Regions from separate parts of the Homo sapiens genome. Here region 1 is linked to region 2. The links come from fine-mapping of genetic effects on gene expression. Tissue or cell type: whole blood. Region 2 holds a variant in brackets; the other region holds the start of a gene. All regions are shown on one strand. Distances are from middle to middle.

Region 1 (2,500 bases), 41 kb before region 2:
GCTCTTAGCCATGATGCTCTGCTGCCTCAAAAGAACGGCCAGCTAGTGTTAGTAATAATAACATTTACCGATGTCATCGTTTGGGGTTTCATGTAGTCCTTGCAACAAACCTATGAGCTGGGCCCGTGATTCCAGTTTTGCAGAGTGGGGAGTTGGTCACAGAGCTAGTGAGACCAGGCCTCCAGCCCAGTTGGTCCGTCTCCAGGGCCTCAGCTCAGCACCACATCCCTGTACTGCAAGCCTCAGTGGTCAGCACCAGGCGTCCCATGGGGACTTAAGATTCCAAGGCTTTTGAGCACTGCTAGAAGTTTGGGGTAAGATCTTTTACTTTTTTTATATTAAAAAAATATATTTTTTTGAGATGGAGTCTCACTCTTTCGCCCAGGCTGGAGTACACTGGTGTGGCCTCGGCTCACTGCAACCTCCACCTCCCGGGTTCAAGAGAACCCGGAGAGGGAGAGCCTCAGCCTCCCGAGTAGCTGGGATTACAGGTGCCCACCACCATGCCCGGCTAATTTTTGTATTTTTAGTAGAGATAGAGTTTCAATCCAGGTGGGAGATGGGGTTTCACCATGTTGGCCAGGCTGGTCTCCAACTCCTGACCTCAGGCAATCCGCCCACCTCGGCCTCCCAAAGTGCTGGAATTACAGCCACTGCCCGGCCTGGGGTAAGCTTTCAATGTTGTAACTCCCTCCAGAACCTCATGGCCTATGAAGATGGCCAGGTGGGCCTGGGCCCAGGCTCTGAATGGCCTGCTGCCTCTCTCCTGGACACAGCATTCAACTTCCTGGCTGGGGCTGGGAGTGCAAAGATTTGTTTATTTGTTTCTTTTTTATTGAGACAGAGTCTCACTCTGTCGCCCTGGCTGGAGTGCAGTGGTGCAATCTGGGGTCGATGCAGCCTCTGCCTCCCGGGTTCAAGTGATTCTCGTGCCTCAGCCTGAGTAGCTGGGATTACAGGCATGCGCCACCAGGCCTGGCTAATCTTTTTTGCATTTTTGGTAGAGATGGGGTTTTGCCATTTTGGCCAGGCTGGTCTTGAACTCTTGACCTCCAGTGATCCACCTGCCTCAGCCCCCCAAAGTGCTGGGATTACAGGTGTGAGCCACCACTCCCAGCCTGGGAGTGCAAGGATTTAAATAAAATCTTGTGAAAGTTCAGTTTGGCTCCTTCAGGGACTCGGCCAGGCCGGGGGGCAGCACAGGAGACAGGCTGACTCCCCTGTACAGATGGATGGGGAAACACAGGCAGAGTAGGGACAGGGGACTTACACCAGGTCACACGGGGAGCCTGTGGATGAGGCAGAGGCAGGACTTGGGCCTGGGTCTCTGCGCTAAATGACTCCTGGGCATCCTGCTGAACTCTCTCCCAGAAGGAGATTGGCCTCACATACCCCACTGACCCCTTCCTAGCATGCTTTTTGCCAGACCCATTGAGACTGGCTGAGGACTGGTTGCCATAGAGATGGCCTGTTAGGCAGTTCTACGGTGCGGATGGGGGATGGGGCAGGATGGGGCAGGACACCGATATGCTAAATACCTACCAACAGTTGGTTAGGACCCCGTCGGTGCGACCAGGGCAGGACGTGCGGCTCCAGGCTCCAGGAACCAGAACGGGGCTGCTCAAGCTGCTGTCGACCGTCTCTCAGGACAAGCAGGTGAGGGAGGCCCAGTGAGGACACTTCCAGCTGCCTAGAGCCAGGTGGGTCAGGGAGGCCTGGGCTGGGGAGGCCCTTGAGAAGCCACAAGACCTGAGCTGAGGTCCAGATGAAACTCAGGGAGGCAGGAGTGGGACAGGGACCACAGGGAGGCCTAAGGGCCTTGGGAGAAGCCGAGGGATGACGCCCAGGAGTGACTCCCAGGGATGATGGGGCCATTCAGGGAACACTGCGGAAGGAGCAGGTTTCAGGAAAGATGAAGACCACCTTGATGAAGACCACCTTGGTTTCTGCCTTGGCTGTAGCAGGTCCAGGGCCCAGTGGGACATTTGGGAGTGCAGTCCAGGGCCCAGAGGTGGCCTAGCGCAATGGTGACAAATCTGGGCTCCACCACTTCCCAGCTGTGTGACCTCAGTTACTCAGCCTCTCTGAGCCTCAGCTTTCTCCTCCACATGATGGAGGTGATAGTGAGTACCGGCCTCCTAGGGTCCTTGGGAAGGTTACGTGTGTTTATGCATGAAAGTCCTGAGCACACAATAGGTGCTCAGCAGGTGGCAGCTGTTGCTATTTTAATATGCAGAACGGAGGTGGTGCTCGGTCGGGTTTTTTTGTTTGTTTGTTTTTTTGAGATGGAGTTTCACTCTTGTTGCCCAGGCTGGAGTGCAATGACACAATCTCGGCTCACTGCAGCCTCCAACTCCTAGGTTCAAGCGATTGTCCTGCCTCAGCCTCCCAAGTAGCTAGGATTACAGGCGCAGGCCACCACACTCGGCTAATTTTTTTTGTATTTTTAGTACAGATGGGGTTTCGCCATGTTGGCCAGGCTGGTCTCGAACTCCTGGCC
Region 2 (2,843 bases):
TAGGATATCTATTTAAAAATTTTTAAATTAACATAATGAAATCTTAAACACATTTAATAGTCTTATTGTTAGTAATAATAATGATGATATTGGCTGGGCATGGTGACTCGTGCATGTAATCACAGCACTTTGGGAGGCCGAGGCAGGAGGATTGCTTGAGGCTAGGAGCTGGAGACCAGCCTGGGCAACATTGCGAGATCCCCATCTCTACAAAAAATTTAAAAATCAGCCAGGCATGGTGGCATGCACCTGCAGTCCCAGCTACTCAGGAGGTTGAGGCAGGAGGAGTTGGAGACTGCAGTGTTCTAGGATCATGCATTGCACTCCAGGCTGGACGACAGAGCAAGACCCTGTCTCAGAAAAAAACCAAAAAATACAAAGAAAAGAAAACTGAAGCTGTGTAACAGGTACAATGGGATTCATTATTCCATTCTATCTACTTTTGAGTATGTTTGAAAATTTCCATTATAGAACTTTGTTTAAAAAGAGAGAACAAGAACATGTTGGCTTAGCAACAGAAAAGCATACATATGTTCAGCTAAAGACATGAACAAGAATGTTCTTAACAGCACTATTTATAACAGCCCCAAACTGGAAACAACCCAAATGTCCATTAACAGAAGAATGAATAAATAGCCGGGCATGGTTCTTAGTGCCTGTAATCCCAGCTACTGGGGAGGCTAAGGATCCCTTGAGGCCAGGAGTTCAAGACCAGCCTGGTGACATAGTGAGACCCACCTCTAAAAATATTTTTTAAATTTAGCTGGGTGTGGTGGCTCATGCCTGTATCTGTAGTCCCAGCTACCCGGGAGGCTGAGGCAAAGGATTGCTTGAGCCTGGGAATTTGAGGCTGCAGTGAGCTATCCTCACACTTGTGAATGGCCACTGCACCCCAGCCTGGGTGACAGAGTGAGACTCTGTCTCTAAAAAAAAAATCAACAAAGGGTAGACATTCATATAACCGAATGAGTAACATGGATGAACCTCATGGACATGAAATTATACATACTGTTTGCTTCCATTTAATACAAAATCTGGAAAAATTCTTTTATTCTATTAGAAGCAGTATAGAAGGCTGGGTGCGGTCACTCATGCCTGTAATTCCAACACTTTTGGAGGCCAAGGTGGGAGGATTGCTTGAAGCCAGGAGTTCTAGAGCAGTCTGGGTAACAAAGCAAGACCCTGTCTCTACAAAAAAATTTTAAAAATTACCTGGGCATGGTGGTGTGTGCCAATAGTCCCAGCTACTCAGGAGGCTGAGGCACAAGAATCACTTTAACCTGGGAGGTGGAGGTTGCAGTGAGCCGAGATGGTGCCATTGCACTCCAGCCTGGGTGACTGAGTGAGGCTCTGTCAAAAAAAAAAGCATCGTTTTAAATAATGACATAAATATAAAAAATGGCCAGCATGGCTGGGCGCAATGTCTCACGCCTGTAATCCCAGCACTTTGGGAGGCTGAGGCGGG[C/T]GGATCCCGAGGTCAGGACATCGAGACCATCCTGGCTAACACAGTGAAAACCCATCCCTACTAAAACTACAAAAAATTAGCCGGGTGTGGTGGCGGGTGCCTGTAGTCCCAGCTACTCGGGAGGCTGAGGCAGGAGAATGCCGTGAACCCGGGAGGTGGAGCTTGCAGTGAGCCGAGATCGCGCCACTGCACTCCAGCCTGGGCGACAGAGCGAGACTCCGTCTCCAAAAGAAAAAAAAAAAAAAAAAAAAGGCCAGCATGAGAATGAGTGAAAGTTCATAAACTCTTCCTATGGTGACTCACATATGGCATAAGGAACTAGCTCACTGGTTTTGCCTTCTCCTTCCTCTCTTCTGTAAGGTTCTTCATTTCCCAGGCCTGTAACTTGCTGTCTTCCCACTACGGTGCCTTCTAATAAAGAGCTTCCAAAACTAAAAACAACGTAAATCTTTGCTGCGGTTATTTTTTGACGCATCAAAAAAGGCACCAAGCCTAGATGTTTTTAAAGCTTCAAAAGTTTATTGACCGGCACCATGGCTCACACCTTTAATCCCAGCACTTTTGGAGGCCAAGGTGGGCGGATCACCTGAGGTCAGGAGTTCAAGACCAGCCTGGCCAACATGGCGAAACCCTGTCTCTACTAAAAATACAAAAATTAGCCGGGAATGGTGGCAGGTACCTGTAATCCTAGTTACTCAGGAGGCTGAGGCAGGAGAATTGCTTGGGGCCTGGGAGGCGGAGGCTACAGTGAACTGAGATGGTGCCATTGTATTCCAGCCTGGGTGACAGAGTGAGACTCCGTCAAAAAAAAAAAAAAAAGGTTATTATCTAAAGGCTTTACCTTTAGATAATAGATCATTCAAATGCTATTTAAACTACTCCAGATCAGAGAAAAAGATGGTAAGCGCTCTTAACATATTTTATGATATTAATAAAATACTGATAGCCAAATCTTCTCATTGTTTCTGAAGTTTGTTTTCTAGAAGTTCCTTCTGTCTGCTGGTGATAAACTCCTATATTCTGTTGGTCTGAATGTCTTCACCATGGTGTAGGGAGGAGACAGCCGTCGTGGCCCCCAGGGCTGTGGTGAGAATCAAAGCTGTCCTGCCTTGGGCATGTCTCCAAAGCCCAAACACACTGGGAAGACGGAGTTGGCCCCACTCAGGGTCTCCACTCAGATCAGGCTGGGTCCCACTTCCCTCTCCCTGAGCCCCGGACACATCGATGCTGTCATTGCATGCTGATTCTCCGAGTCCCTGAGCCCCGTACCCCCCGGCCTTAAGGAGCCTTGCCAGTGTCCTCCCCACCTCGCCCCTGCCCAACAGACACAGCACGCCACCTGCTCTGCCTTGGGTCCCAGGCCTTTCCCTCCTCAGGC

Evidence for each region. PIP is the estimated chance that this variant, and not a neighbour inherited with it, causes the effect. A credible set is the group of variants that fine-mapping cannot tell apart.
Region 1: it holds the start of TSGA10IP, and the variant in region 2 is the best candidate, but not a certain one, in a credible set for the expression of TSGA10IP in whole blood (INTERVAL, PIP 0.82).

What each region holds. Positions count from the first base shown.
Region 1 is chr11:65,944,167-65,946,666 of GRCh38, forward strand. It overlaps TSGA10IP (testis specific 10 interacting protein), which reads left to right and starts at 1,314. Exons shown (of 8, transcript NM_152762.3): 1 at 1,314-1,656. The coding sequence starts at 1,510. It overlaps LOC105369350 (a long non-coding RNA gene), which reads right to left and starts at 1,358. Exons shown (of 3, transcript XR_950212.3): 1 at 1,271-1,358.
Region 2 is chr11:65,984,804-65,987,646 of GRCh38, forward strand. No RefSeq gene overlaps it. Among named protein-coding and RNA genes, the nearest start is that of EIF1AD, 16 kb to the right of the region's middle. The variant C/T (reference allele first, on the strand shown) is at 1,466.